Regions from separate parts of the Homo sapiens genome. Here all the other regions are reported to be linked to region 1. The links are microRNA targets in miRTarBase. Many come from high-throughput screens and were not tested one by one. Region 1 holds a microRNA gene; each other region holds the end of a gene's coding sequence.
Evidence for each region. Region 1 holds the annotated microRNA hsa-miR-4662a-5p (UUAGCCAAUUGUCCAUCUUUAG, at 1,783-1,804, opposite strand). A microRNA usually pairs through its seed, bases 2 to 8, with sites in the 3' UTR of a target mRNA and lowers its output. Matches are read on the target gene's strand: a 7mer-m8 pairs with bases 2 to 8, a 7mer-A1 pairs with bases 2 to 7 and ends in A, and an 8mer does both.

Region 2: the mRNA of NDNF is a reported target of hsa-miR-4662a-5p. The part of its 3' UTR that is shown has no 7-base or 8-base seed match.
Region 3: the mRNA of PAQR7 is a reported target of hsa-miR-4662a-5p. Seed matches in the 3' UTR shown: 7mer-m8 at 1,300-1,306, 7mer-m8 at 1,934-1,940 and 7mer-A1 at 2,056-2,062.
Region 4: the mRNA of RIMOC1 is a reported target of hsa-miR-4662a-5p. Seed matches in the 3' UTR shown: 7mer-A1 at 173-179.
Region 5: the mRNA of TMEM245 is a reported target of hsa-miR-4662a-5p. Seed matches in the 3' UTR shown: 8mer at 1,756-1,763.
Region 6: the mRNA of SREK1IP1 is a reported target of hsa-miR-4662a-5p. Seed matches in the 3' UTR shown: 7mer-m8 at 1,150-1,156.
Region 7: miRTarBase lists MSRB3 as a target of hsa-miR-4662a-5p. Seed matches in the 3' UTR shown: 7mer-A1 at 2,670-2,676.

Annotation. Positions count from the first base shown.
Region 1 is chr8:124,819,158-124,823,793 of GRCh38, reverse strand. MIR4662A (microRNA 4662a) reads right to left here and starts at 1,809; the gene lies at 1,743-1,809. MIR4662B (microRNA 4662b) reads left to right here and starts at 1,736; the gene lies at 1,736-1,816.
Region 2 is chr4:121,032,520-121,037,155 of GRCh38, reverse strand. NDNF (neuron derived neurotrophic factor) reads left to right here. Exons shown (of 4, transcript NM_024574.4): 4 at 1-1,543. The coding sequence ends at 892. Among named protein-coding and RNA genes, the nearest start is that of NDNF-AS1, 37 kb to the left of the region's middle.
Region 3 is chr1:25,859,293-25,863,928 of GRCh38, reverse strand. PAQR7 (progestin and adipoQ receptor family member 7) reads left to right here. Exons shown (of 3, transcript NM_178422.6): 3 at 68-2,445. The coding sequence starts at 90. The coding sequence ends at 1,130. AUNIP (aurora kinase A and ninein interacting protein) reads left to right here and starts at 4,472. Exons shown (of 3, transcript NM_024037.3): 1 at 4,472-4,636. The coding sequence starts at 4,572. RefSeq lists enhancers at 512-1,281, 3,566-4,191, 4,065-4,294, 4,192-4,636 and silencers at 3,655-3,714, 4,315-4,574.
Region 4 is chr5:41,916,701-41,921,336 of GRCh38, reverse strand. It overlaps RIMOC1 (RAB7A interacting MON1-CCZ1 complex subunit 1), which reads right to left. Exons shown (of 6, transcript NM_175921.6): 6 at 1-4,321. The coding sequence ends at 4,038. It also overlaps the pseudogene LOC100419715. Among named protein-coding and RNA genes, the nearest start is that of FBXO4, 6.3 kb to the left of the region's middle. RefSeq lists an enhancer at 2,831-2,990.
Region 5 is chr9:109,016,633-109,021,268 of GRCh38, forward strand. It overlaps TMEM245 (transmembrane protein 245), which reads right to left. Exons shown (of 18, transcript NM_032012.4): 18 at 1-3,873. The coding sequence ends at 3,828. Among named protein-coding and RNA genes, the nearest start is that of CTNNAL1, 5.5 kb to the left of the region's middle.
Region 6 is chr5:64,720,620-64,725,255 of GRCh38, reverse strand. SREK1IP1 (SREK1 interacting protein 1) reads left to right here. Exons shown (of 5, transcript NM_173829.4): 5 at 683-4,636. The coding sequence ends at 872. Among named protein-coding and RNA genes, the nearest start is that of SHISAL2B, 32 kb to the right of the region's middle.
Region 7 is chr12:65,462,121-65,466,756 of GRCh38, reverse strand. It overlaps MSRB3 (methionine sulfoxide reductase B3), which reads right to left. Exons shown (of 7, transcript NM_001031679.3): 7 at 1-3,602. The coding sequence ends at 3,435. Among named protein-coding and RNA genes, the nearest start is that of LINC02454, 140 kb to the left of the region's middle.

The DNA.
Region 1 (4,636 bases):
TATATCTCAGACTATGGCTGTTACTGTCCATGGGCTCAACTAATGCAGAGAATTGTAGGACATCTAGCCCTGCTCCTAAAGGAGGCAAAATGATCCTTATCATGCCTGTTATAGCCAAGGAAGGCTGGACCCAATTCCACAGAACTCGAGATGGCGCTTTTCATTTCAAAGAAAAGACACTATGAGCCTTTCTCATATTTCACAGCATGCTGTGTGTTGCACTTGACCTCTACTCTTGCCCTCAGCTTCCCCAGGTGGCCTCGCCTCCCTGCTGCAGCCCCAAAGCAGTAAAGCTACAGCTCTGGGCCATGGGCTGTGGCTTCAGTGATCTAGGACCTGATTCTCCTAAAAACCACAAATGGATAGTTCTTCCAAAGACCCAGGGTCCTCATAGAACTCTCTAGAAACAGTAATGATCTCCTTGGAGCTCAAACAGTCCCTGAGCTATCAGACCCTGCCAACACCAGGGCTTAATGCTCAGGGAACACATTTTATGAGAGCAACTGTCACTCCTGAGCTTCTGTGGGTCACTTGAAATCACCCAGTTATTTTTCACTCAGCTGAGGGGCAGTATAGTTCTGACGGGTGGCTTTGGGTTCACTGCCTTCAACTCCAGTCAGAAAACGTTAGTGCTGAAATGGATCCGGGGTACAAATAGTTGGGTTGTTGACATGCTTTCTTCTGTTGTATACATAAAGGTTCCACATACAAAAACCTATTTGCAAAGAGAGGTCAGATGCTTAAATGTGAATAATAAAAATGCTTATCCATGGGTACTCTAGTTTAATCTCCTCATTACAAGAGGAATCTGAGGCCCAGAGAGAGAAAGTGACTTGTCCAAAATCATACAACTAATATTGCAGCCAGCAATAGAACAAAGAGAGCTCAGGAATTCTGGGTCCCAGTGACTATGGAAAACAATTGTCTGAAATTTTACCACTAGAAATTGCTACTCCCTGCCCCATACTACCTGAGTCTTATTTAGGTAAACAGATAGTAAATATAAACATTATCATTGTAAAAAAATGTTTTAAAGACCAAATATATTTATAAAGTTTTTTAAAGTGATCTTTTGTACCCCTTTGTACTCTACCCAATCCCATTCATTTCCCGAAGGATGTCCGATGTTAACAAATGAGTGTCAAGTCCTTCTAGGCCTTTTTCTATGCACTTAGGAATGTGTTTACAATATATGACTGGGTTTTAAAAATACATACTTATATACTATATGTATGTAGATATAAGTATAAATTTATAAGCCATATTTATATATTATGCCATTTATAAATATAAAATCAAATTGTTCTGTTTTGAGACTTCCTTTGTTCACCTAACCTTGTGTCTTGGCACTTTTTCTCTCTCTTTTTTTTTTCTTTTTGAGATTTTGCTCTTGTTGCCCAGGCTGGAGTGCAATGGCACAATCTCAGCTCACTGCAACCTCCACCTCCCAGATTCAAGCGATTCTCCTGCCTCAGACTCCTGAGTAGCTGGGATTACAGGTGCCTGCCTCCATGCCCACCTAATTTTTGTATTTTTAGTAGAGACAGGGTTTCGCCATGTTGGCCAGGCTAGTCTCAAACTCCTGACCTCAGGTGATATAACCATCTTGGCCTCCCAAAGTGCTGGGATTACAGGTGTGAGCCACCGTGCCCATCCATGGCACTCTTTCCATGTTGGTCAATAGAATCTTGATGTTTTGTCGATGGCTTCATGGTATTCCATTGTATGGATGTACCACAATTTCTATTTAGCCAATTGTCTATCTTTAGGCATTCAGAATAGCTAAAGATGGACAATTGGCTAAATAGACACTGTGGTACACAATGGCTTTTTCTGTTGCAGCCATGGTTGCAGTAAACTTCCTTGTATATAAATCTCTGGGACATGAGCCAATGTTTCTTCAGAAGAGATACCTAGAAGTGAAGATGTGAGATCATTTGTCTACAGAAGGTTTCACTTTAAGTTGTAATGACTCGCCTTAATGTTGTCCAAAGGTTGTTTTTCTAAACCTTATTTGAGGGCCCACAACAGCCATAAACTTTTACTTATGTTTCACCTAGAATCATCACAGCAATCCTGTGAAAGCAAAGTATGATCCCTATTTTTCAAAAAAACTCACTGAAGTAGGAACAGACGAAAAATATCTCAATTTGTGAAAAAGCATTTACAAAAAAAAAAAAACATCTAACATCATACTTAATGGTGCCAACTGAACGTCTTCCCACTGAGATTGGGAATAAGACAAAGATGTCTGCTTTCAACATCTTCTTCAACAGGGTAGTAGAAGTTCTAGCCAGTGCAATATAGCAAGAAAAAGAAATACAAGACATACAGATTGAAAAGAAAGAAATAAAATCATCTCTATTTGCAGATAACATGATTGTCTATTTATACAATCCTAAAGAATCTAAAAAACATAAACTAAAATAAACCTCCTAGAATTAATAAGTGAATTAAGTAAGGTCACAGAATACATGATCAACACTCAAAAATCAAATGCATTTGTTTATCCTGTCAATGAACATGGGGAAACTGAAATTAAAAACAATACCATTTACAATCACTTCAAAGAAAATAAAATACTTAGGTATAAATACATATACTATGTCTCTGATGAAAATTACAAAATGCTGATGAAAAAATAAAGACCTACATAAATGAGGAGAAATACCATGTTCATAGACTGGAAGACTCATCATAGTGGAGATGTCAATTCTTCCCAAATTATCAATAGTTTAACACAATTCTTATCAAAATCCCAAAAAGATTTTGTAGACAAAGCCAAGCTTATTCTAAAATTTGTATGGGAGGCAAAAATTTTGAAAATAAAATAGCTGTGATAACTATTTTAAAAAGTAGGAGGAAGCACTCTACCTTGTGTTAAGTCTCACTATATAGCTACAGTTGCCAAGGTAGTATGATATTGGTGGAGAGATAAACCCACAAATCAATGAAACAGAATAGAGGACTCAGAAATAGACCCACAAAAATATACTCAACTGATTTTTTACCAAAAATACCAAAAGTGCAAAAGCGAGTGAATGAAGGAAGGAAACTCTTTTCAACAAGTGGTGTTGGAGCAAAAAACAAAACAAAACAAAATCTCTTGTTTTAACTTAAGTCTCATACTTTAAAACTTTATACAAAAATTAACATAGATCACAGACTTAGATGTAAACATAAAACTTCAACACTTTTAGAGAAAAATATGGGAGAAAATCTTTAGCACTTAGAGCTAAGTTAAGGAGGTCTTAGACTTAAAATCAAAAGCACAATTTATAAAAGAAAAAATTGAGGCATCTTGATACTTCATCAAAATTAAAAATGTTTGCTCTGAAAAACACCCTATTAAGAGAATGAAAAGGCTGGGCACAGTGGCTCACACCTGTAATCCCAGCATTTTGGGAGGATCACGAGAGGTCGGGAGTTCGAGACCAGCCTGACCAACATGGAGAAACCCCGTCTCTACGAAAATACAAAAAATTAGACAGGCTTGGTGGCAGATGCCTGTAATCCCAGCTACTCGGGAGGCTGAGGCAGGAGAATTGCCTGAACCCAGGAGGTGGAGGTTGCGGTGAGCCAAGATGCGCCATTGCACTCTAGCCTGGGCAACAAGAGCGAAACTCCATCTCAAAAAAAAAAAAAAAAAAAAAACAGAATGAAAAAATAAACCAGAGACTGGGAGAAAATATTGGCAAACCACATATTCATCTAACAGACTTGTATCTAGACTATATAAAGAACTCTCAAAACATAACAGTAGAAGACAAAACAATCTAATTACAAAATGGGCCAAAAACCACAAATAAATGGCTCATAGAAGAAAATGTACAGATGGCAAATAAGCATATGAAAATATGTTCAACACCATTAGCCATTAGAAAAATTCAAATTAAAACTACAATGAGTTGTTATGGTGTAACTATTAGAATGGCTAAAATTAAAAAAAGCAATAACACCAAATGCTAGTGAGGATGTAAAGAAACTGGATCACTTACACACTGCTGATGGAAATGTCAAATGGTAGCATCACCCTGGAAAATAGCTTGCCAGTTTCTTATAAAACTAAGCATGCACTTACCATTTGCACATTTGTACATTTATCTCAGAGAAATGAAAACTTAAGTTCACACGAAAACCTGTACATGAGTGTTCATAGAAGCTTTATTGGAAATATCTAAAACCTAGAAACAACCCAAATGTCCTTCAATGGTTGAATGGTTAAACATCCATACCATGGAATACTATGCAGCAATAAACAGGAATAAACTCTTAATACAGCCAACATGGATGAATCTCAAGAGAATTACACTGGGTGAAAAAAGCCAATCTCAAAAGTTACATATTGTAACCTTTTGAATTTTTATAGTATTCTTGAAATGACAATATTATAGAGATAGAGAATAATTGATCAGTGGTTTCCAGGGCTAGGGATAAGGAAGGAGAGGAGATAAGTCTATAAGAGGTAGAATGAGGGAGGCTTGTTGTGATGAAACAGTTCTCTATCTTGATTACGGTAATGGTTACATGAATCACATACACGTGATAAAACTTCATATAACTATACACACAGATGGGCACACACACACATAGAATAAGTGCATGTAAAACCTGTGAAATCTGAATAAACTCTGTG
Region 2 (4,636 bases), not on the chromosome of region 1:
TTCTCCAAAACTGGGGCGTCATGTCTACTCCAGGCCCAAGGTTGATATTCAGAAAATCTGCATAGGAAACAAGAACATCTTCACCGTCTCTGATCTGAAACCCGACACGCAGTACTACTTTGATGTATTTGTGGTCAACATCAACAGCAACATGAGCACCGCTTATGTAGGTACCTTTGCCAGGACCAAGGAAGAAGCCAAACAGAAGACAGTCGAGCTAAAAGATGGGAAGATAACAGATGTATTTGTTAAAAGGAAGGGAGCAAAGTTTCTACGGTTTGCTCCAGTCTCTTCTCACCAAAAAGTCACCTTCTTTATTCACTCTTGTCTGGATGCTGTCCAAATCCAAGTGAGAAGAGATGGGAAACTTCTTCTGTCTCAGAATGTGGAAGGCATTCAGCAGTTTCAGCTTAGAGGAAAACCTAAAGCTAAATACCTCGTTCGACTGAAAGGAAACAAGAAAGGAGCATCTATGTTGAAAATTCTAGCTACCACAAGGCCTACTAAGCAGTCATTTCCCTCTCTTCCTGAAGACACAAGAATCAAAGCCTTTGACAAGCTCCGTACCTGTTCCTCAGCCACCGTGGCTTGGCTAGGCACTCAGGAAAGGAACAAGTTTTGCATCTACAAAAAAGAAGTGGATGATAACTACAATGAAGACCAGAAGAAAAGAGAGCAAAACCAATGTCTAGGACCAGATATAAGGAAGAAGTCAGAAAAGGTCCTCTGTAAATATTTCCACAGTCAAAACCTGCAGAAAGCAGTGACCACAGAAACAATTAAAGGTCTTCAGCCTGGCAAATCTTACCTGCTGGATGTTTATGTCATAGGACATGGGGGGCACTCTGTAAAGTATCAGAGTAAGGTTGTGAAAACTAGAAAGTTCTGTTAGTTACCTTCTTATAGAGATATATTATGTAGAACTCCAGGAGGGACATTAAATCACTTTAAGTATAAACTGACTACTCCCACAGTTGAGAGAAGTTGTGACCTGTACTTGTACTATGGAAGGAAGGATATCAACGTGTGTATATTGATGTTTATATAAGTAACTCTTGAAGGAGACTTGTTCTAGCGTGCCCCATGGTACCTAGTGTGTGTCTGATGCCGGTTGGTGTCAAAGATAGAGGGCTTCTTGAAGGAACTTGCCATTCCTTGCTTTGACCACTGCATGAACTGCTTCTAAATTATTTTATTACCTAAAAATTTAAAATATGCCATTCATTGCACACACCCACAAATGCAAATCATTCCTCTCTGTAGATGCTAGGATATATATAAATTATTTTATAAATTCTTGTTTTAAATGTCAGTGTTTCTATGATTGTAAACTATTAAATTCTTTTCCTATTAAAGTACAGATCTAATCTAAGTATTATTAAGTTGATAGCCCTCTAGTCAGTTATATTGCTATTGTAAATTCTTGTTTGTTGAGTAAAATGTTTAAATACTATATGTATCTCATGTACAAAGTTGACATACATTATATTCATGTACATAAAATTAAAGAGATTAGATTATATACTGTTCATTTTCCCAAGCAGCTACCTTGGTGTATTCAATTTCTAATCTGTCCTCAAAACTGCACCTTCTGTAGTTTGGCACCAAAACAGACCCTTTTTTAATAATTAAAAAGGGATGCCCCATCTCTCTAAAGTTACTATGGCATTAGAAATAGTTATTAAAATTTGTACTTTTGACGTTGAATGGGAGCCAGCTGTTAGGAGAGTTAAGAGAGCTACAATAGACTTGTTTTAAAAGAATAGGACAAGCCAAACACTAACTCGACAAGTATTCAACAAATTGTCCTTAATAACCTAAAATATATCACTTTATAAGCATTTATTTTAAGTACAAAATTGAGATATTTCAAGCATTTTCCATCTGTTTGAATCTTAGCAAAATAGTTAATAATTATTTTAATCTCTAGCTGATGCAACTTAACAAACACCAATCAGGACTTTTATTAGTAAGAAGAAAACTAGGAAAGCTGTTGTTTTATAACATTAATGGTCTGCTACTTTTAACTTTGATTTTTCATGGATTTTTTAAAAGTAATTTCAAGTGTAAGAGACAATTTAGGCAAATCATAACATATTTTATCAGAGACTGTGCACAAAGGGCACTTTTAGGTAGCTTCATTCTCCACAGGTTCTATACATAAATCATGAGGTGTTACGAGAATATTGGTCCAGGAATCAGAAAAGTGTGGAATTTACAATCACCTAAAGCAATATGACTTTAAGAAAATCTGTTACCTCCCATCATCTCCCTTTCCCATCTGTTAACATTTGGTGGTGATAGATTTAGATGAGTTGACATTGTTAGATACTTTCTATTATAAGAGGTTGTCTTTGGTAGAATTCTATGATTCTAAAGTGCTGTGACTACAAGTGTGGACAGGTGTAATCACTTTACCTCTACACTGCCCGCTGCATGCTGACACTGCCTTTCATATGGTGGGCATTCAACAGCAACATTCCTGTGGAGTATAGATGGCTATGACTAAGGTAGTGTAAGTGGTGGTCCTTATAAAATATGCTCTGCTTGCCTTAGGGGAAAATAGTTCCTTAAAAACGTTCTCATCCAACTCCTCAGTGTTAAGATATCTAAACAAAAGTGACCACATCTATACACAACAGTAATGACACCTGAAAGAATTTTTTAACAGATAAAGAACAGTACTCCCATGGTTATGTAACCAACCAACTAGGAAGGAGAGACTTTAAAATTGACAACATCCCAGAGATGTTATATCCTAAGTTATGAATGTGCTGCCGTTGAAGAAAAATCAGCTTTCTCATATTACTCACATATATATATTATTACATAACAATGTGTTAAATTGGACTACAGTGAATCAAAGAGTTATTGCAGCTTCTGAAGGTGACAGACTTTTAACTTTCAGATATTGCTTAATGCCTGGGAAACCCTGGGAACCACGCCAAGTCAATTTAACCAAGCTTTTGCTTTTTAGCCAGCTGTGATGGTGGTTTCTACATAGTCTGGATAAATCCAAGAATACTTTCATGGCCCTAGTGAAATTTGCCTTTTTGAAATTATTAGGAAAACGAAATACACATTATGAAACTTCTATCACTCCTAAAGAAAGGGGAAAACCTATTAAAAATGAAGCTCTTATTTACTAATGCATTTCTATTTCAGGAGCATTTGGCTAAACTGGGGACAAAAAACAAAAACTTGTTCTTAATTAACAAAAGAACTAGAAAGAAGCTCATATGAAAGCACCACCTTGTGTTCAGTAAGCTTCAGGATAGCTCTGTTGACAGCAGGGCATTTAGAGAGTCCCAAGTATAGTCATGTATCACTGGGGAGGGAAGAATCTTTGAGGACATCTAGTTTACAATCTTTATTATTTTTCAGGTGTAGAAAAGAGATTAAAGATCATAGAAGTCAGAATAAATTTGTAAAAGTTCTCATAGTCAAAACAGCTAAGTAATGGCATTGCCCAGACTCCAAAATCCTGACCAGAATATAAATCACCAATTGTTGGTTTAAAGGGGTTATTTGTGAATCATTTTCCAAAAAAAGAAGTACACTTTTTGTGTTACTTACCATTTCAAAGAAACTTATTCTTCAAGACCATTTCAGATTTCCTTAGGAATGTATGTGTTACCCATAATTGACCACTTCAAACTTGTAAGAAAAAAAATGTTATGGTCATTTTGTTATTTTTAGAGACAAAGTATTTCTAATCTAGGTTTGCATACAACCTTGAGGCTGTGAGATCATTAGTCAATTGCTTTAATTATAAGCCCTGTTTTTTTTTTAAATCTAAAAACTAATAAACATCTATAAGAATTATAACAGATTATTTTCTTCATTAAATTTGTAATCAAGTTCTAGATTAAATGTTTAAACATGCATTAAAGGATTAGTTCTGAAAAGCACTTATTTTCATTACTCAACACATTTGAAAAAATGATTTTGATATGATGAAGAGACTTAAAAAAAGACAAAGATGAACTTCAGAGTTTGAAAAAGGCTTAATAATTCTCAACAGTTTGAATGAAACCACACATGCGTGCACGTGCACACACACCTACACTTTTGTATATATTCAAGGGATCCATTGTAGCTGAAACCAATCCAATATCTCTTCCAATATTTTACCAATCCCTTCTAGAGATTATCTAGTTCTACCATCTCATTTTACAGATGAGGAAATTGAGGCCCAATTAAGACTAGAATCTAGATTCTCTTACTCCCAGTTTAATGTCCACTCAGGACTTCATCTTAAGCACTTCTTCACTATAGAAAGCATGGGACAACTCACCCAGAGTATACTTCTTTGTCTCTATTCACTGGCTGGCTTCAAAACAACACAAAAGCATCTAACTTGGAGGACAATGTCATCTGGAGCATCTCCAGCCACTTCCTTCCCCCACTCTGATATGGTGTGACAGAGGTACAACTGGCTGGGAGCCTGCCTTCTGGCCCTCTCCCTATGACCAAGTAGAGTGACCACTGCCAGACTTTAGCTGATCTCTATATGTAGTCGACCAAATGACCTGGGAAGCATCAAGGCACCCTCACAACTGTGTTTCCCCAGAGAGTTTTAGCCAGAAAAATACAGAGTCTTTGGGGATTTGGGCCTTTGTTGTTTTGAAAGTGG
Region 3 (4,636 bases), not on the chromosome of region 1:
CCCCCCAGCTGCTGCTCGTGGGGGTGAGGACACCAGGCCCCTGACTTTGCTCTGGTCTCTCTCCCAGCTCCCTGCCCAGGCCCACAGCCATGGCCATGGCCCAGAAACTCAGCCACCTCCTGCCGAGTCTGCGGCAGGTCATCCAGGAGCCTCAGCTATCTCTGCAGCCAGAGCCTGTCTTCACGGTGGATCGAGCTGAGGTGCCGCCGCTCTTCTGGAAGCCGTACATCTATGCGGGCTACCGGCCGCTGCATCAGACCTGGCGCTTCTATTTCCGCACGCTGTTCCAGCAGCACAACGAGGCCGTGAATGTCTGGACCCACCTGCTGGCGGCCCTGGTACTGCTGCTGCGGCTGGCCCTCTTTGTGGAGACCGTGGACTTCTGGGGAGACCCACACGCCCTGCCCCTCTTCATCATTGTCCTTGCCTCTTTCACCTACCTCTCCTTCAGTGCCTTGGCTCACCTCCTGCAGGCCAAGTCTGAGTTCTGGCATTACAGCTTCTTCTTCCTGGACTATGTGGGGGTGGCCGTGTACCAGTTTGGCAGTGCCTTGGCACACTTCTACTATGCTATCGAGCCCGCCTGGCATGCCCAGGTGCAGGCTGTTTTTCTGCCCATGGCTGCCTTTCTCGCCTGGCTTTCCTGCATTGGCTCCTGCTATAACAAGTACATCCAGAAACCAGGCCTGCTGGGCCGCACATGCCAGGAGGTGCCCTCCGTCCTGGCCTACGCACTGGACATTAGTCCTGTGGTGCATCGTATCTTCGTGTCCTCCGACCCCACCACGGATGATCCAGCTCTTCTCTACCACAAGTGCCAGGTGGTCTTCTTTCTGCTGGCTGCTGCCTTCTTCTCTACCTTCATGCCCGAGCGCTGGTTCCCTGGCAGCTGCCATGTCTTCGGGCAGGGCCACCAACTTTTCCACATCTTCTTGGTGCTGTGCACGCTGGCTCAGCTGGAGGCTGTGGCACTGGACTATGAGGCCCGACGGCCCATCTATGAGCCTCTGCACACGCACTGGCCTCACAACTTTTCTGGCCTCTTCCTGCTCACGGTGGGCAGCAGCATCCTCACTGCATTCCTCCTGAGCCAGCTGGTACAGCGCAAACTTGATCAGAAGACCAAGTGAAGGGGGATGGCATCTGGTAGGGAGGGAGGTATAGTTGGGGGACAGGGGTCTGGGTTTGGCTCCAGGTGGGAACAAGGCCTGGTAAAGTTGTTTGTGTCTGGCCCACAGTGACTCTCTGTGCACGACTCAACTGCCAAGGGCATCACTGGCCAATTCTTGGATTTAGGGATTGGCTAGGAGTTGCTGGGGTCCACTCCTGGGCCTGCCCCAGCTCCTTGCCCAGGGAGAGGGAAAGAGTTAACGGTGTGGGCCACTCCAGCTTGCCCTTCCACTGCCACTCACTGGGGTGAGGCTGGGGGTCAGCTTGGTGAGGATTGGGGCTTCTAGATTGTCTAGGCAGGAGGTGAAACTTAGGCCAGAGTCAGATTTGAGCTGAGCCAGGGGAGGCCTTGGCAACCTACTTCTACTCAGATTTCATTGCTGGATGCGGAAGGGGTAGGCCCAAAATATATACAGGATCTTACTGTCCCTTGAAGCCCAGCCACAAGTGTTGGAGCTGCAGAGAGACCCCAAAGGTAGTAGATTGTGCCAGATACAAATGGGTCCCATCCAGTGCTTCATACTCCTTCAGTCACTATCCCAGACAGTGAGCCCCAGATCTCCTAGCTCTGGCTTCTGTGTCCCACACGGCCTGTTCCCAGCTTCTCTCCTGGTTCCCTTGTTACGGATTCATTTATCCATTCAGTGTTTCCTGGGCCTCTGCTCAGAGGCAGGTCACCACTGGGCCCTGTGGATCAATGCAAGATGACAAAGGCTTTTTTTTTTTTTTTTTTTTTTTTTTTTTTTGAGGAGTTTCGCTCTTGTTGGCTAGGCTGGAGTAAAATGGTGCGATCTCGGCTCACTGCACCTCCGCCTCCCAGGTTCAAGCGATTTTCCTGCCTCAGCCTCCCGAGTAGCTGGGGTTACAGGCATGCACCACCATGCCTGGCTAATTTTCTGTATTTTTAGTAGAGACGGGGTTTCTCCATGTTGGTCAGGCTGGTCTTGAACTCCTGACCTCAGGTGATCTGCCCGTCTCGGCCTCCCAAAGTGCTGGGATTACCGGCATGAGCCACTGCGCCTGGCCGACAAAGGCTTTGATATCAGAATGAACTGTCAAGGGAGGTGCTGGAGAGGGATTAACCTGTGCTGCCTGGGACCCTCAGGGTCTTAGGTTGGGGAGTGTGAATAGGAGTTTGCAGATGGAGAATAGGAAGGGCATTCCAGGCAGAGGGAAACCTGTGCAGAGACCAAGAGGTGTGGAAGGAAAAGTGGGGTTGGGGCTGGGTGGTCTGGATTATGGCCTGGATGCAATAAAGTACTGTGACAGTAGCCACCTCTTTGTTTTTTGTCTCCTGTTTCCGGGAGGGGCCCCTGCTCACATTACTGGAGGTTTTCCGGAGGAAGCTGGGGCCCCTGGGAGTGGACACAGGGTGCAGGGAGCAGTTCTTGTTTTATCTTTGCTGGGGGATGGGGTTGGGGCCTTATATACCATATCTATATATACAAAATTTGTTTGGCAAGGGAGTGGGCGGCAGTTTTATTACTAAAGTTTTATAAGTAGTTAAAATAATGTGTTTAAAATATGATAATCCCACTTTATGATCTGACAAAGACTTTTTTTGTTTGGTTTTTCCTTCAATTAAGGAGGGTTTTTTTGTTTTGTTTTTAGTGGAGGGGGCAGGGGCGTGCACACTCCACCACACATATTGAGCCTCGTCGCATGCGCACCGAAGAAGTATGTTAACTTTTATAATATTGCTTTTTCCATAGTACACAGCAATATATATACAATGAAGGAAAATTGGGAAGATAAGAAAACCCAAATTAATTAGAAATATCACTTCACTGCTGAAATATCATGGGGGACCTTATGAAATACACACACACACACACACACACACACACACACACACACACATAAAATATGTGTATATAAATAAATATTTTGATATAGGCCAGGCATGGTGACTCACGCTTGTAATCCCAGCACTTTGGGAGGCTGAGGCAGGCATATCACCTGAGGGCAGGAAGTTGAGACCAGTCTGGCCAACATGGCGAAAACCCATCTCTACTAAAAATACAAAAATTAGCCAGGCGTGGTGGCACACACCTGTAGTCCCAGCTACTTGGGAGGCTGAGGTGGCAGGATCGCTTGAGCCCAAGAGGTTGAGGCTGCAGTGAGCTGAGACTGTGCCACTGTACCCGAGCCTGGGTGACAAAGCGAGATGGCTCTGTCCACCATGAAGACAGGCTCTGGCTGCAGAGATGGTTGAGGTTCCTGGCTGACCTGCTGCAGACTGGGCAAGAGGTGGCTGAGCTTCTATCCTCCCTCCACCAAAAAAAAAAAATTACAAAATTTTTGGCCGGGCGCGGTGGCTCATGCCTGTAATCCCAGCACTTTGGGAGGCTGAGGCAGGCGTATCACGAGGTCAGGAGTTCGAGACCAGCCTGGCCAATGGTGAAACCCCGTCTCTACTAAAAATACAAAAATTAGCTGGGTGTGGTGGCGTGCGCCTGTACTTCCAGCTACTAGGGAGGCTGAGACAGAAGAACCGCTTGAACCCAGGAGGCGGGGCTGCAGTGAGCCGAGATAGCGCCACTGCACTCCAGCCTGGGCGACAGTGAGACTCCGTCTCAAAAAAAAATTTTTTTTACATATACAATATGTAAACATTACGTATAATGTACATATATTCCATCTATGGAGATTGTGGTTAGGGACGGAAGGATGGGTGGGGGTGCCAACATTTTTGCATTTCCAAGGGGTTTTCTGAATTCACAAAGTACTTTCACAACCTCATTTGATCCTCTTTAAAATCCAAGGCACAGTAAACGGTGAAAGCAGGACTGAAATCTAGTTCCTGACCCCAAATTTTAACCTCTTCAAAATCCTCTCCCATGTGGCTTCGTAGTTACGCTTACATTAAAAAAAAAAAATTACCAAAGTTGTTCGCACACTCGAGTGTCTGGTAACCACTTAGGTCGAGGACCCCTGGTCTGGAGTCGACGGGCCTGATCTCGGCTCAGCCACTTCCTTCTGGGGGTGATCGCGAAGATTCAGCGATGACACGAACAAATTCCTAAGCCCGGGAAATACTGTAAGAAATTTTCAATACAGCAAAAAGAAAATGTACATTTCTGAGGCTGTCGAGAACCGTTCACACAGCAGCTTCCGAATCCGCTCTTGAAAGAGCGGATCAGAAAGAACACGCACTCCTCCGCGCAGGGAAATATGCCGCACGCACTCAAGGGACCGGCCGCGAAAGTTAGTGCGTGGGCGGGGCACAGCGAAGGGGGCCAGGGCCTTGCCGGGGCGGGGCTGGCGCCCGGGGCGGTCGCGACGTAGCCCCGCCCCCAGCGTTGGCGCGAGATCCGAACGTCGGCGGCCGCGGTTCTGGCGTTCCCTGAGGCGCCGGGAGCCTGCGCCGGCGTCCTGCCGGCTTCGTCTCCTCAGCGGCCATGAGGCGGACAGGCCCCGAGGAGGAGGCCTGCGGCGTGTGGCTGGACGCGGCGGCGCTGAAGAG
Region 4 (4,636 bases), not on the chromosome of region 1:
AAAGAGAAAAGAGGCAAGCAATCTGAAACCATCATGTTAACCAACTGTGAGTTTTTAAAAATGTGGTTAAAATGAATCTAAGAATGCCTTTTAACACAGCTCACACTTTAATGAACACCAGAGAATTCACAGCAAGACTGTAAAGCTAGGAATGTAAAGTTATTGTGGGGTTTTAGCCACGACCCTCACCTCACTCTACTATATGCAAAAGAAGAAAGAAAAGTCTTTAGTCATGATTTGCACCTTAATCAGCATCAATTATTCTCAGCAGCCCAAAACCCTATAAATGCAGCAGAGCACACAGGTCTTTAACTAAGTCTAAAAGCCTAGTTAACATCAAAAAAATTCATATTGGGAAAGAGCCATACACATTTAACGACTGTGAAAAGTCCTTTAACAGAGTTTTGGTAACCATGAGAGAATTCAAACCGAAGAGAAACCCCAAGTGTAAAAAATGCAACAAGGCCTTTAGGTATCACTCAACCATTAGCAAAATCCATAGGGGAGAGAAACCTTTTATGTGTAGCTGAAATGATAAAGTCTTAAGTAGTGACCCATTCCTTAATTCAATATCAGAACTTCTGTAAGAAAGAAACTTTATCAATGTGCGGAATACGCAAGGTATATAACCAAAGGAGAGAAATTTGAAGACACAAATGCTAAAGCAGTAGACAGTTCCCAACCACCCCTAAATATGATGGCATCCCACCCCTCTCCCTATCACACTAGCCCCTTACCCTCATTTATTCTTCTTCATGGTACTCATCACTTGACACTCTCTATACATTTATTACTTAAAATGCTTGTCTAACTTCCTCCACTAGAATATAAGCTCTGAAACAGGAGGGGGTTTTAAAAAGCTATATCCTCAGGGTCTAGGATAAAATCTGGCATATGGTAGGCATACAATAGTTGAGTGAATTTAGTGTAGTACTTTCCTTATGTGGGGTATTTGGTACCTTGAGGTTACTTCATTCTAAGTGAATGATTTAGCAGGCTTTAACATATATAAAAATGTGTTCATTATTCTATAATACACCAGAGTAAAAAGCATTTTAACTGCCATGGTCTACAAATTATTCTCCAACTGTGTGGGGGATGGAAAGTTGTATAAAAAGCACCCAGTACTACCCTCATAATTGTACCAACCAGTGAGACCAAGTGGTCTACCAGGGTCACGAAGGTAAAATGAAGTTTCCAACTTCTTAAGAGAAAGTTCTCTTTTCTCAGGTTCAGAATCTAAACACTTTACTCCTCTCAGGATGGCATATATCCCTATATGCCTTGTCAGCCACTGGTATAGAGGGCATAGCAGTTTGGAATCCAATAGCAACAACTTTTTGTGCAAAGTTTGGCATTTAGAATCATGCCTCATTAATTCAAAAACATTACTAAGGGCCTACCATGCATTAAGCACTATGTATACAGGTAAATTTTTAAAATATGGAGTTTACCAACAATAAAGAAAATAATTACAAAGCAGTGTGATCAGTGCGACAACATGGGAGGGGAAGAGTAAAGGACCAGAACAAAGGAGCATCTAATTTGACTGAAAAGGGCTTTAAAAAGCCTATGAAAACAGAATCACTGAAGCTGAGTCCTAAGAGGTAGGTAGGTATTCACTTGGTCACAAAGAAGGATGCAGAAGTAATGATGTGTGCAAGGCTACTGAGGTGGAAAACACACAAAGCGCATTTAGGGAAGAAGTGGAAGTACTTGCAATTGATCAGGATGCTCTAAAAAGAGGGATAGTCTGTGGTTCTAAAAACCGTATTAAAAATAATTTAAATCTTTATACTTAGAAAGCACAAAGGTATTTTCATAAGAAAACTTGCTAAAATGCTAAGTTAAATAAAAATCTTAGCTGTGTAATGATAAACAAGGGGGCTGGGGCAGGAACTGAGAAATTCCCTTTGCCACAGAGGCTCTATATCAGAATTTGTATGTTTACCAAAAGCAGCCTGGATTTTAACTGTTTGAGCAACACTGGACTAGAACATGATTACACAGGATGACTGCAGAGACATGGCTGGGAAGGTAGTCATTCTGTGTTGCCCTGATCTGCGGAAAATCCCAAAAAGAGAAAACTTACAAAGCAGAAAGGATTTTATATAACAGATGAGGACTTGACGTTTGGAAACACTGAGCTTAAAATTACTGTGGGATGTCTAATGAAGATATTTGATAGACAGTTAGAAACAAGGTTTAGAAAGCAAGAGATAAGTCAGGATACAAGTTACAGGTTTGAGACTCAGTCTGTTATTACAGGTGGTAAAAGAAGCCATAGTTATGAATGACATTGTATAAAATATGTAAAGTAAAAAAAAAAAAGAGAGAGAGAGAAAAAAATATAGTGAAGATCAATACCTAAAAGGTAGGCAGAAAGTGAGACAACACTTTGTGGGGAAATGAGAGAGACAGCGAAGATGAAACCAACATGTAGCACAGAGTCGCCTTTGATAGGAAGCAGGCAACCTCTTTTCCTCTAAAATGGGAAAATGAGTAAAGTTGGTAAATACAAGTTGACCTCTTCATAGTCTCAATTTTCTGTTCAATAGGAGAAAGAGCCATATGCTAGGGGAGGGGCAGAGGGCCTAAGGAAAGTAATGAAGTTTGGCTCAGCCACAGCGGGAAATGGGAGAGAGGCCACCCTAGTAACAAACATAAGGTTTACATTGAGGGCTTTTCTAAGGCTGAAGTGAGACACTTGTAGTGATTCTACTTTGAAGGACTACCCATCACAAAGAACTCAGCATCCCCGAAAAGGTAGATAATAAATAGGATTAATCTGAGGTTGAGGGCTTGCCAAAGGACTAGACTAAAAGACCAGGGAAAGAAGAATAACTGGTGAGATTAGTTCATATAGTATCCCATAAAGCTGAGGGTGGATAGGGAAGAAAGCCTGAAAGGGGCTGACAGTTTAGGAGGAAGGGGAGCAGTCAAGAAAAGGGGGTAAGAAGGAACTGAAGAATGTGGAATGAGCATAAAGGAGAGAAAAGTCAATAAAATAAGGAAGTGAAAAAACTGAAAAGAGGGCAGTTATCAGTTACTGAAATTTTACCAGAAAGAGAAACTCAAGGTGGTGACATTCAAAGTGCGGCCACGGGAGTAAGCTGCTGGAATGTAATAAAGTCACTGGGCAGAAGTCCAAGGTATCAGCAAGGTATCAGAAAGATCATCCAAAGATGACAACAGGAGTTGAGGTAGACAGAAAGACCATGAGCAAGATATCAAGTTAGGCTCTCTGGCCTTTAACACTCACCCCTATTATTAAAGGCAAAAAACATTAAAATTTCAGTATGTTATGAAAAGATGTGCTACAAAAACATATGAACTAATGGTAGACTAACCTAGCTTGGTTTTTATCTTCATTACTCACTTGAAAAGCCATGCATTGTCTTTTAAACAAAATAGAAAAATAATTTTTAAATTTTTATAAAATGCCTAAGGGAAGTAGAAATTTTAAATACAATTAGTAATACATGGCAAAATAATTAAACACAATGATTCCTTTGTGAGATCTTTCATTATTTACCTTATTGAAAATGGAATCTGAATATTAGTCATAATCTTTCATTTTGCCTACATTTATATCCATAGTATGTATTCAAAGCAGTGAAGTAACTTGACTTTAATTTCTGAAGCATGGCAAACTTCAAGGTAGTGAGATTTAAAAATAATCTAAAGATGATAAAAATGGTAAACTTGTGTTACATATACCACAATAAAAAAAAAAAGTAATAGAAAAAATCTTTGTAAAGCTAAATTGGGTTACTACTCATTATTAGTGACATAACATCTGTATTTTAAGGTGAGTTTGAACAACACTTTAGAAATTAAAGAATCATCCCTTCATAGGTTTACTAATATATAATGAAAAAGATGGTGATGTTGTTTTAGTAGGGTACCCAAGCTGGATATCTTTATGCAGTGTAATGTTCTCATATTCAGTATCAACAGGTCTTCTTTTTTGGAACTCTCTTTTCCATTTCATGGGTTTTGTTGTTTTTCTATTTGAAAAGGACTAGATGAACTTACTAGTTACAGCGATGATGAAAGAAGTTTAAAATTTGTTTTGCATTCGTTGTATTCCATTCTTGTTCTTTCAGGGGTCCTTCACACACAGATACATACTTTTTCAAGATTTTTTCTCCTACTTCTCGGAAATCCAAGGGTTCCTTGTATGTAGTGCAGCCCGCTCCAGACACACTAGTATCCACTTCATGATTTTCTGGTTGCTGATCAGCACAATACTTCGATCCCCAGTAACACATTTCTCCACTGTACATCATAGCCAGCAGATGAATGTCACTAAATATTCCTGGGAAAGTCATTTAGGTTGACAGATTAGAATTAAAAGCTTAAAAAGAAACCGTAGTTATTAACTAAACTCTAATTAAAGTTCCTTTTGTCATTAAGCATTTTCTATTCTCACTTTAACAGTAACACAAAAGCCAAATATGACTAACACAATCTTCATTTAATTAGCATTTTTTAATATCGATTTTACTGATAAAGGAGGCCCATTACAAAAAGAAAAACAGAGTACCAGAGAATTTTTTTAGAGAACCATTTAGGTGTTTTTGACCTTTTTGGGGTCCACTCTATAACTTCTTTGAGAATCTAATTTAAGGAA
Region 5 (4,636 bases), not on the chromosome of region 1:
AACAGTGGCTGCAGACAGCATGTGTGTTTTTTTTTTTTTTTTTTTTTGCAGGTTCCCAATAATCGGTAAGTTAATAAAATGAATATATTTTGATGGCAGAATGTTGAAAGACAAGAAACTAATAAAAAGTACTTGTTTTTAGCTGGAACTAGCATTTGGAAGTAATGCTAGCCAGAGGCTATTTCCACTGTGAAATGCACACTCAAAGTCCTATTGTAATATTATTTTAAGGGTCTTAGGAGGCCCCTCAGAGGAGACTGCAAGGTCAGGGCTAGAGTATGAGAAGTCCTAAGGGTTTTTGTATTTTGTTTTTTTTTCCTATAAACCCTGAGGTTGAAAGCTCTGGATAGCTCACCTAAATTACTTTCCTCTAATCTAACCCCTCACAGCCTGAATTTCTGAGTATTGCTTGACCAGTAGTGACACATTCCTGAGGCACTAATATAACCCAAATGGAAACTACAGGTCCTAGGAAATCCAGATAGGTCACAATGGGTTCATGTGAAGATCAAGGTGAGCCAGAAGATCTCATCTGCAAGCCATTTAGCAGCCCTTTAACTGTAAAAAGCAGTTCCACTTTCAAAGGCTACAGAGTTTGTTTACATACAAGGTCTCCATGTAACATGTTGGATTTCTTCCCACTGTCATGGGCCAACCCACACTAGACTCAGAAGTCAAGGGAAAGCTCTGCCAGCTAAACACTTCTTATCAAAGAGGGTGTGAAGAAACCTTGCAATTTTAACAATAACTAAGACCAGCATGTAAGGTGGTCTTACAGAGATCACTTGCAGGAACAGATATTGATAGGAACTTCAGAACTCAAACAGCACTCACATAACATGGAATTTATGCTGAAAATCCCATGCCTTCTCTCTCAGAAAAGAGAGGAGCATACCTGTGTGGAGAGCTTGTATTTTCTCCCCTCCCATCCATTCGGTTTACAACTGAATAGCGAATGTGAACTTGAAACTAATCTTTAATAAATCTATAAAATGCAAGATATTATGACCAAGTTCTGTACTCCGTTTTTACTGAAATGACTTCTACTTCATCAACGTACGGTCTGTTCCTGAAGAAACTTCCTCTTTCTGGGTCAAATTCTGACTGAGAATGTAAAGGTAGGTTATCTTTGAGACTTGAGCTTAAAACTCCTACCTTTTCATACCACTTGATCTCTGTTGCCCTGTGAAAATTCTGTAAACCTTCCTCATTGCATCTGAGGAATCATGCTGGAATGCTTCTTTCTGGCTCGGAGGGTTCCAAGACCTCCCCAGCTAGTGGACCTTCCTAGTCCTTATGCCGTTGCTGTAGCAATGGGGCAGGTCAAGTTTCCTGATCATAGCTGTGAAGCACTCTGGGGCACCTCTGCTCCTGGTATTTCAGGGTGATATTACATCACTGCTGCTAATTTTGGTAGCTCTAAAGTATTCTCTTAAAGACCTCTAAGAACCTGATATTTATGCTAATAATTACCCAGCAAGAAACATTAGCTGTAGTTTTTTGCAATATCACTTTATACAGCTAAAATCACTTTGTATATGTATAGTAACTCATTGTATATATTTGTCTCTTATGAATATGTGCTAATTACATCTATAAATCAACCAGTATATAATTAACAAAAACAAATGATTTTTTAGCCTTTTAATGCAAAAAATTTAAATTTAGTATTACATATGATCTGGCTAAGAGCAAGAGGCCTTCTTATGAGTGATCTCCATCACCCTGTACAGTGCCTGGCACAGAATCTAGAGTTTAGCCAACTCTCAACAAATGTTTTAGTGAATGAATGAATGATTGACTAAAGAAAAACATGAGTTACTTAGTGACCAAATCTAATACTCAGTGGAATAGCTGATTATAATCGCTAAAATATTCATAATAGAAATAAAGAGATCTGTATGCAGTCTACTCCATATAGTCAAAAGATCTCATGGTAGCCTTTTCTAAATGAAATTTTTCTTAAGTAGTGTAAGAATAAATTTAAACTAATTATAATTATCAGTGACTTCTTAGGGAGATGTTTTAGGAAAAATTATTAATATTTCTACCTTTAAATACTTTCCAAAAAGGAAATCTTCAACGCTTAAGAACTACCCCCCAACACTTTTTTTTTTCCTTGGGACAGTGTCTCACTCTCTCACCCAGGCTGGAGTGCAGTGGCGCCATCTTGGCTCACTGCAGCCTCGACCTCCTGGACTCAGGTGATCCTCATACATCAGCCTCCTGAGTAGCTCAGACTATAGCCACACCACCGTGCCCAGCTAATTTTTTTTTTTTTTTTTTTTTTTTTGTAGAGATGGGGTTTTGCCATGTTGCCTAGGCTGATCTCAAATCCCTGGGCTCAAGCAATCCACCCACCTCAGCCTTCCAAAGTGCTGGGATTACAGATGTGAGCCACCACCTACAGCCTGGCCAAGAACCCTTTTCTCTCCCACATTCCCCTGGGAGCAGAGGATAGGCCTGATGATTGTTTTAAACAGTAGAAAGGGTTCAGCTAAGAACTACAGTCCACTCTCAGCCCTGTCATGTACTATAGGACAAGTCTTCATTCACAACAAATGGATAGCAACACCAATCTCGTAACACTGGGAAAACTGCATACAATATTTAGAAGGAACACTAATACAGCAGAATCTGCACACAACGGAGTCAAAGATCTGAGGCCAAATCCTACTACACTTTACGACTTTGAGTTGGTCACTTTTCTGAACCTTAGCTTCTCCATCAGTGTAAAACTGATGTAAAATAATATAAAGCTATATGAAAGCTGATGTGATGTACTTGTGAAATAGTATGTGCAAAAGGACTTTGTAAAATGTAAAGCACTATGCTGGTTATTGTGATATCTGAGATATTTTTAAAGTTGCAATTCAATTCAACAAGCATTCATTTAGAGTCATGTGCAAGGCACTGTGCTAAGAGATGGGAAAATACTACATAAATACAAAATTCTGCTGAAAACTAACTTATTGGCAGAGTTCCAAATAATGAAACGGATACATTTAACAAATCAGAGTATTGCTACACCTGAGATTTTTCACTTCAACCACCTGGAAGGAGAAAACCTAATAACAGCATGAATTTTATCATACTGTTACCATTCATAGCAGCTTAATAAGTATTTCACTTCAACGTGGTCAGCCAAGTTTTATAATTTGGCAATAGTGTAAAGAAGCGTGAAGAGAAAAGGAAGAGGAGGAAGAGCTTCAGTCTTTGTATCTCCCAGGGTTATAATATAAAACTGAACATCAAATAAGCCACCCCACCCTTATACTTATGATTTATTATTTCTTAAAGAGCGTATAATACATTGTGGGAGAAGGGTAGAAGATTCATTTTTCCTGCTCACTCAACTACACACTCAAAAGTGAAAGCCCTCTTCCTTGAAAAGTGACTGTCTTAGAAAAGTTTAACAATACATTTCTTAAACCAGGAAAAAATTACACCATCTATTCTTTTAACAGCAGGTAGTTTAGAGTTCTTAAAATAACTTTATAAATATATAATATAGTAACATAGATAACCAAAGTGGAAAAATTTCAAGCCAGGGTACCAGTGTATAAAATGAAACTTTTCAAGCCATCTTAACAACAGTTAAGTGAGCAAACCACCAACTCTGAACTCTCAAGCTGTGTTTTAAAATACAAAGCAGCCCGCAGCAAGTTCTCTCTTGTCCAGGCATTCTGTATGTAAGGCCAGGAGGCTTCTGCTTCTTTCCTGGGTTTTGCTTGCTAGGCACAGCTGGAAGGGCAGAGGGCCACAGCTGAGCTGAACTCGCTGTCAAATTTGAACTTCCTAGAAAAATCACTGCAGAGGAAACCACATCAACCTACTGAAGATTTCAGATCTTCAGAAATGTCACGGAAAGTCCTAAAAGAAAAAAAGACGGAATGATTAGTTGATTACCATAAAACAGTATCCTATTTTTACAATCTTTTGGAGCCCTAATGAGATTATATAGTCACTATTTTTTCTTAAGATTTTCATTGAGTATTGTTTCAAAGTCTGCTAGTTGTTGCTCATTCTCATTAACAAGAACTCCATCTTTTTGCTGGATCTATCCAAAGGACTGTTTCCCCAGACTCCCCTGAAACTACACATGACCACGTGACTACGCTTTGGTTAATGAGATTTAAGTAGAAGTGTTGTGCAACTTCTGGGCAGTTCCTTAAAAGAGAAGAGCAATCTTCTTCAGCTCTTCCACCTTGTTACTGGCTGGAAGTGGATATGATGATTGATGTTAAAGAGGAAAAACCACTAAGAGACCAAAGATTAAATGCTAAGTGGATACATTTTATTACAAAATAGAAATCGTAATCCAACAGAGAGTCCAAGCTCTAAGGGATGTGGTTCAGTGCAGGAAAAATGGGTTAGGTCTTTTCATCAAGTGACCTTGTACTTGAACTGTTTCTGACCCACATTAAACAAGCTAAGCGAACAATGTTATTGGCGGGTAATATCTGGGCTGGATGAAGGTGGCTGAGCACCGTGCCTGACTGCTGCATACATGAAGTGTCTATCTCAGTACTGTAGTAGCTAGCTTGCTTTTGCTACATAATTTACATGTCTGAGCTGAGATAAATCACCTGGCTAAATTTACATCTGTGCTGGCAGCCAAATGGCCAGGTCAGAA
Region 6 (4,636 bases), not on the chromosome of region 1:
GAATTGAACCAATTTTTTCAATTTAGTATTAGAGTAATATTTTTCAAAAGCACAATGATAACCCATCCTTTTTCATTTATATATAGCATAAAAGCATCCTTTTGTAACTAATGAAAATTATTTTGTAATGCAAGTATTCATCTGTATCACTCTCCGTCTAGAGGGATCAAGTACTTGAAAAATCAGAAGAATTACCAAAAGTGCTTTTATTTTGCTAACTTTCAGCTTTCATTCATTCATATGAACGTACAATTATAGCCCTTTAAAATAGAGAATTGCAACTTTTGAGACACTTTTAAGAAAATATGCGAAGTTATTGTATACACAAGTGAATATAATAAGGCTTGGTGAATGCCCCTTTGTTTGCCTTTTAGGATTTTGAATGATATGACTGCATGAAAAACCAAAAATCACAGAAAAATAATTTCATCCTTATTGACTTTAAAACTCATTACATTAGTATTGAGTGGAATAGATACTAGTTTTGTTGGTTTCTGTGACCAAGCAGCAAAAATTCTAAATTCATCGTTTTAAGGGAATGCAAATATATGAAGCATTTTTTAAGTTTATGTTTATACTCCCTACCTTACTCCAAGAAGAATTTAAGGCAGTTCAAATCCCACTTAAATTTATCTATCAGTCATAAATGCAATTCTCAGTCAGTATGTATTATTATCCATAGGTCTTACTCATCCAGTTCCACTGAAGAGGACACTTCAAAACAAAAGAAACAAAAATATCAGAAGAAAGAAAAGAAAAAAGAAAAAAAGAGTAAATCAAAAAAAGGGAAACATCACAAAAAGGAAAAAAAGAAGAGAAAAAAGGAAAAGCATTCTTCTACACCTAATAGTTCTGAATTCTCCAGAAAGTAACTGAGACTTTGGCTTAAGCCGTTAAATTTAAAAATTTGTTTTTAAAACGTGTTTGCCCTTCCTTGGAATTTGCTATATATTATGCTTTGCAATAAATCACAGCCTTTTCCATATAGACATTTTTCGTATTTGGGACCATTATCCCTCTGGCAATATATTTTTAATGTGCTGTAACTGTAAAGTATTAAATCAGTCTTGTTACTTGATAGCCATGCCCCAAGTATAGCTATTTGTGTATACTAAACACATCATTTTTGGTATTTGTGTCTCTGTGTGTTTGGCTAGTGTTACTACTTCATAAGTTCATTGTAAAATGGCTTTACTGCCATCAACATGGGTCATCTACCTAGCAGTTAATGAGTATTGCTGGATCAGGTGTCCACCTTCCAATGATGAAGCAAGGTAAGGGGTAATGTTTTGCTCTTGACACAGAGAAATTTAATAGCTTTATGTACTAAAATATAATATCTTTTAAAGATAGTGAAATTCTTCAGTTTTTTAAATCTCTAGGGATTTTTTTTCAATGTTGTAGAAGATGCAGCTGCTTAATGGTCTTGACTAGGACTTTTTAAATGAATGGTGTCTGCAGGTAGATGATCATGAAAATATCTCTAACAAAGTTTTACTCTTCTATGAAATGCAGAATTTCTAGTACCTGCCTCCTTTGTTTTTGTAATAATTAAAATACTTCTTGTATAAAGAGATTAGTTCAGCCTGTTAGTAAGTCTGCAGAGATGATGCTGAGTTGGTTGTGATTTTTAGAATAGACTCCTGGGTTGTTTTACAAATGTGCCATATTGGCATGTCTTACAGTGATACCTCAAACACAGAAATTTTTATTTAGGAAGATAGCTAAATCTTTATTAGAACTGATTTTTATTGTATTCAGTATAAATTTTATGAAGCTTGTTTCTATGAGTACTGTGGAAAATTTTATAAATGTGAGCATATATATTTATTTTGTCTGACATAATTTGTAGTTTTAAAGCAAGTTTCACACTGAACTTAACGTTTTCATAAATGACCAGTTTGGGATGTTTCTCTCTTTTACTTTAGTGGCAAACTCAAGAGTAAAAAGTGTCAAAAAAAGAATTGAGAATTTTATTCTGTACTTTTTAAAATTTAAGAGCCAGGGAGTTGCATCATGAAAGCCTTTGTATAATAATGGAAATTTTATATGGGTAAGCATTTTCAAACACATATTAGTAGATACGTTTTTTAAATTTCTATTTTCACATTGATCAGTGTTACTTTGCTTAATACTTAGGTAGCCCTTATGTCCACTAAAGTAAATGCTTATGTTGTAGAAGCATCGAACATCAACCAATGTCATGGCACAGCACCAAAGATTGCAAATACCTCACTATGGTGCGCTTAGAAATTTTCAAATTGATAACCTATAGATACGGCTGCAGGTGAATTCATGATAGTGAAATCAGCTAAGTATACTTAACCTCACAGGCTAGAAAGGTTTACTGATTCTTGTTTCACCTGGCACCCAATGTGGATACCCTCAGTAAGACTCAGGGAGCCTTATAACTCCTCTTAACATATGCTTACCCATGCTTAAATTCTAGGGAAGCTGTATCCACAGCCCTCTGCATTGCAGCCATGAGAGCTCTCACGCTTTCAACCCTTCCATAACCTAATTTAGTCATTTGGGCCTCTCAAAAGGAAATGCTTTTGTTTAAATAGGTCAGTCAGTTACTGGGAGAAAAAATACAGAGCCAGTAGGTTTTTAGGGATTTGTTTTGCCTTTGCTGCTAGTTTTTTGAAAATATTCTTCGATTATCAAGATTTTAAAAATCGGTTTTTAATATAAAGCTTTTTTAAAAACGAGGCTGGCACAAGTGCAGTGGTGTTTCTTTACTCCCACTGCTTGACTTGACTAGCCTTGAAAAAATAACAGTAAAATAAAATATTAAAAAATAATTAGAAAATGCTACAAAGGCAATGACCTTATTCCATTGAGTAAGATAGTTAAAAATGATAGTAATTGTAGTGAAATAGTTAATTACTTGTAAGTTTTATTACTGTTAATTGTAGAGATTATAAATTGGCTCATTAGGTTTCTGAATGGTGACACAATAATGACTGAGAAGAGCAAAAGTCAGTCCTCGTTAACTAATGTAGTATGCAAATTAAAATATTTTAATGATCAGTAATTTTCCCCCCAGAAATGATGTTGGCATTTCTAAGTAAATTTCCCATAATTTTAGCATAGTTTATGAAATTGAATAAAAATTTATTTTCACTGAAGTAATTTTCTTCTAATATGATATTATTATTGAGATTGGATGCAAATCTCATGAATATGTTTTAGAAGAAAATTAATGAAATTCCCTCCCAGGCAGTATGTACCAGAAGGAAAACTGAATTTAGCAGTAAAACAGTCCTGGTCATTCTAACTACCTGTATGATCTTGAACAAAGTCACTTAGTTTCCCTGGGCCTTGGTGTCTTTCGTCTATAAAATATTGTACCAGATTATCTCTGAAATCACTTCAAGGTTTAATATATATAATTATCAATATTTTAAAATTCAAGCAATATTCACTTTAGAAATTATTATAACATTCTATAATAGTAAAGGTTGAATTTATTAATATAATAAACACGTTCAACTTCTTCAAGCAGATAATTGATATTTGGTTCATATTCTTACAACCTAATGCATGTCATTTTCACCAAATGCAGGCAGAATTTATATTTAGGTTTGCATCTGGAACTAGATTATCTGGCACTTTATGGCCATTATTTTTGGGTTGATGGACCTTCTCACCACACAATTTCCCCCTTTTTTTTTTTTGCATATCATATGTTGGTTGATATTTCTCAGAGGTATCCCTATTTCTTCATACTTAATATACATCTCCATTTACATCTTTGACTCTCTGAGGTCAAAACAACAATAAATGAGAAGTAAAACAACTATATGTGTTTGTATTTACAACTGTATCTAAAATTATATAACCCTAGTTTACCTTCAGAGTAAACTAGGCTGAAGAGTTGTTAATAATGTTGATAAAAATGCCATTGAATCCTTTCTTCAACAAATATTTATTGAGTACCTAACGTGGCAAACGCTGTGCTAAGTACTGGGGATACAGAGATAAGTAAGACACATTTGCCTCCCTGAAGGACTTCACAGTGTAGTTGGTAGGAGAAACACCAGAGCATACACCGTTATATAATTAGTGCAGTAATTGACATGAACATGAGTTTATAGAAACTCGGGGTTACCTAAAGTAGTCTGGATAAATTAGAAGAGGCTACCTAGAGAAAGTAGTGACTGAATTGCAATTTGATTAAGGATAAGAATGAGGGTTATGGCAGTTCCTGACAGAGTGGGTACTGTGAACAAACACCAGAGGTAGAACAAGCTGTGTTATGTGTTTGTCAAGAATTACAAGCAATCTGGTGTTGCTGGTGTATCATAGGCGAGGCAGGAAGTGGTAAGAATTGAGACTACCATTTTAAGTTCTTAGGAACAGGAGGAAGGAGTCGTGTGTTCCGTGTTTGGGAGCTTGAACTGTAATGTGTAAGCAATGAGACACCATTAAAGAGTTTCAAGGGGGGCCGGGCACAGTGGCTCACGCCTGTAATCCCAGCACTTTGGGAGGCTGAGGCGGGCGGATCACCTGAGGTCAGGAGTTCAAGACCAGCCTGGCCAACTTGGCGAAACCCTGTCTCTACTAAAAATAGAAAAATTAGCCGGACGTGGTGACAGGCACCTGTATTCCCAGCTACTCTGGAGTCTGGGGC
Region 7 (4,636 bases), not on the chromosome of region 1:
CCATCTAAACAAAAGATAATCCCCTTTACCATTTGTTTTGTATTTAAAGCAAGACATTTTAAACACAAGTAATACGGAGAAGTTTTCAAATTGCTACGTCATTTGCATTAAGAATTTAAATGCATCTAAGAAGTGAAGAGTTTAAACACATGGGAATGTTCTCTAGTAACAGATATTGCTGCTTTCTTCAGATCCATTCTGCTTGAATGTAAGGCTATACTTTTTGCACACCAACAGAATTCTGCATCTTCTAATGGTACAGTAAGAGCTGGAGTGCAGAGAGGGAAAGTCCCATGCACTTCCTATGTTAAATGGCATAACTCCCACAGATCACATACACCTTGCCATATTGACTCAGTTCATTGCACTCCATATCCTGCAAAAATAAATCTAGTGCTTGACAGCTGACATTATTGCTCACTGACGTTTTAGTAATATATTTCTTTCACATAAGACAGAAATATACTGAAATTTGATACCACTTAAACCCAAAAGCAATCTGGAATTAAACCACATGCATACACCCCACTTTTTTTCAATAGATGTTGCATTTTTCTTAAAGTCGATCCTGGAAAATGTGGTAGAAGAAAAACTGGCTTTCCTTGAAACAAAGACTAAGGATTAGAAAAAGAGGGGCTTTTTTTTGAGTGAAATGTTAAGCCCTACGATATAAATGAAGGAACAATGACAATCCAGTCTCTGTGGAGAGGGAAGAGGCCTCTCACTGATCCTCCTTGTCTACCTCAACACTGTGGCCCGCGTCCCACGGACCCCAGGGGAGGCTATCCTACAGAGCTGGAGCAGCCGAGAGGTGCTGTGTGTGCCTCTGAAGGATGGGCTGGAGGCTGTGGCAAAGCCCTGAGAGACCTATTTCTTTGGCCACCCCAACGTGGAATCCTGGGGTCACTGGGAAATACTAGGGCTTTCTCTGTGAGATTGGGAAAGACTTCTAGGATGGTCTGGACGCTGATGGCTGAGGTCTGGTCTTAAATTTTACACGTCATTTCTAGAGAGACGTGAAGCCTACGAATTCCAGAGTGAACCCAGGGCCTGGGGTGAAATGTCTTGGAACCTGAGGGAACATCTGGATGCTCAGATAGAAACCTCTTATCTGAGCATCCAGATAAGACCAGAGCTCATCTGGAATCAAGTGTACATGACTATAAAGAGTCCACCGGGATGTCAGGCTTCTTAGAGAGGTGCTTGTAGAGAGAGACATGTAGGAATGTGGACATGGCCACACTGACGCTGTTTGTCACAGATTTTCATTCTAATTTCTTGTTGTTTCTTTAAAATTGTCAAATGTCCCTCTTTCTTTTTTTTCTCTTAGTGCTTACAAGGAAAGCTGTCAGTCTTCATAAACTTTCAAAGAGTTACAAAAATACGTATTTTTTAAACTACAATTCAAGATTAGCATCCAAACCTACAAACATGATGTACATTCGTCACACACCATACAACCTTCACACCTGGCTACAGCAATGTTGACTTACATCACCATTGTTTATACTTGTGAAAACTTTATTGTGCACAGTGACATCCATTCCGCCAGACTTAATGTTATAAAGCAGCTGAGCAGAGCTTCTCAAAGTAAAACTAGCCGTGTTGCTACAAAGGGAAATTCTGGCTCTTGGCCCAACTGTTTCCATACCAATCAGCTAAGTCAGCCTCCTCTCTGCTTCTTTCCATTTCAAATGCCTGGGCTTTGGCCTTTGAGGCAATTAGAACCAGATCAGTTTAATTTTACAACACTGATCTCAACTGTATAGCAATATAGTGAATTTGCCCTGAGAGTATCAATACATTTTACAAATATTATGAGTCCCAGTTTATGCATGAAGAAATAGGCACAGAGAGGCTACATGGCTTGTCCTTTGTCACACAGAAGATTATGTTGAGTATGAAACTTGAGCTTCCGTTTTAGCTTTCCATGTGAATGCCCATGTCTCTCCAGAGGTCACCTGGAGCTCTGTGCACAAGGGCCACCCCACTTGGATTCTGTTTGTTACTTGTACTGCCCTGTCAGTTTTTCTGCCCAGCACTGAATTTTTCAGTACCCAAGACTTCATCCTTGATCTTCTCTGCTCTCTCTCATTCCTGCTGCCTTGATGAAGTGTGTTGCCCCTAATATTTTATTTTACACAGTGGAATTTGTGCCCTTCCAGCTGCAGCTGCTTTTAGGTGTGGAGAGAAGGACTTATAAAAAGGCGATGGACAGGCGTTCTTCTTTTTGAATTTTAGACCAAGTGGGGCTCAATATTTTACAGTTGTCTTACATTTGAATGCTGCTTTCTTTTTCTTTTCTTTTTTGACAGGATCTCACTCTGTTCAGGCTGGAGTGCAGTGGTATGAGCTCAGCTCACTGCAACCTCCGCCTCCCAAGTTCAAGCGATTCTCCTGACTGAGCCTCAGGAGTAGCTGGGACTACATGCATGCGCCACCATGCCCAGCTAGTTCTTATATTGTTATTATTATTATTTTTTGAGATGGAGTGTCACATTGTCATGTAGGCTGGAGTGCAGTGGCATGATCTCGGCTAACTGCAAGCTCCGCCTTCCGGGTTCACGCCATTCTCCTGCCTCAGCCTCCTGAGTAGCTGGGACTACAGGTGCCCACCACCACGCCTGGCTAATTTTTCGTATTTTTAGTAGAGACGGGGTTTCACCATGTTAGCCAGGATGGTCTCCATCTCCTGACCTCGTGATCCACCCGCCTTGGCCTCCCAAAGTGCTGGGATCACAGGCGTGAGCCATTGCACTGGGCCTCCAATGCTTTCGATGGAAAATAAAATAAAATAAAGGCCTAACAGTGTGGTAATGTTTACTTCTCTGCCACAACACTCAGTATGCCCCTTTGGATCTGGCAACAATTTAACATAAGGAAAGACTTTAGACCTTCACACCCTTTCAGTGAGAAAAAAAAAAATGACCTTAGCTCAAACTTTCCACAAAGCTGAACAGTCTCATTAAAACATCACTCCAACCTTATCTTAGGTGGGTCTGTGCAAAGGCCTCAAGGCCATGTGTCTTGCAGGTCTCCATGCCCTGCACTGCCCAGCTCTGGTCTCTACACTGCAGAGGAGATCTCTATTTTCATGTTTGAAGACCATGAACCCTCTGCTTCTGAATCAAAGGGGGAAAAACTGCAAAAGAAGCCATGTGCTCAAAGAAAAGAATGCCAAAGGGTATAAGTGGCTTGTGAAGAAGTTTCACAAAGCTGTCTCCATTTGCTAAAGCTATAAACAGTTCTTGATCTAGTCAATTGCAAAATACATGGATGGCCAGGGCTTCTGTTTAAGCAAAAGAAGAAAAAATATCAATAGCACAAAACTGCCCTTATAGTTTTTGAAAAAATATATCTATTAAGATAACAATTTTGATTTTTTTAATAAGCTGTGCATTAAGTACACTTTGTTTCCATCACTCTCCATTACTCTAGAGCTCCGCTTTGTCTGCCTGGGCCGGGCTGGCGACCCCACTGCCTCCCTCGGCGGTGCCACTGCTATCCGCAGGTGTAAAAGACAAGGCAGCCGAATTTATGCAGTATCTTTTCCCAGTTGGACGAGGCCCATCATCAAAAATGTGCCCAAGGTGAGCACCACACTGAAAGAGAAGAACAAAACGTCAGGGAAAAGCATGTACAAAGCAGGCTTTGAGAGGAATTCACATTAAGCAGTTTAAATGGATGACCAGCCTGTAGAGAAATGAAGGAAACCATCGTGGATGATTTCTAATCCGCCTGTCAATAGCCGCAAAGATGGTTTCTGGCAGGCTTTGCGCCACATGCTGAGAACAAAAAACACTAGAATTGTGCATATCAGAAATCATTTAGGAGCCACGTATTTTTTGATCTGTGAAGTCTCTCAGCCAGCTGAAAAATGACTGCAGTAATTTTATGAATCAAGTTGACCCTTGATCTTCCCTTGTAAGAAACATGGCAGCATAAAATCTTTCCCCCGGCATTACTTTTGGCTTTGGATGGGTGGGTTTCAGATATGCAGAAGTCCACTGAAAAGATACTGTTTAACTGGCCATGACAGAGGTGATGTTTGCTTTCATGGGCAGTAAAACTTAACATCAGACAAGTATTGGATGTTCTTGGAACCCAGCGAAGCAATGGCAAGGCTCAATAGATTTATGTCACAGTCACCAGGGCTGCAAATGTAGCAAAAGGAAACATCTCTAGCACACACAATTGTTTTTTTCCTGGCTTCCAACAAGTAGTGTCATGCTGGCTTCTTTATCCAAATGAACTCTAATATAAAGAAAAGCAATAAGCTGTTTAGCTAAAATCAATTTTACTGACTATTCAAAAAGCTGGGGAAGAAGAGACCTAAGGTCTAGACAGAGGCAGAAGGAACATCATGTTGGTGTTTGAGAGAAATAAAGCCCAGAGAAAGTTTCTCCAAAAAGGCTGGCTCAGTGAACACCCCTACACTAACTGCGTTGATGCTGGGTACAGCTCCAGGAGATGAAGGTACATGTCACACTTAGATATCTACTGCCCTTTTCCATCAGGGATGGGGCGAACGAGATGGAGACACTGGTGCACCATATTCAAGCAGGCTGTGAAAATCCATCATTTATCATGGATCAAAGAAACCAAAGCCTGGGGTAAATGACTTCCATTCATTCGT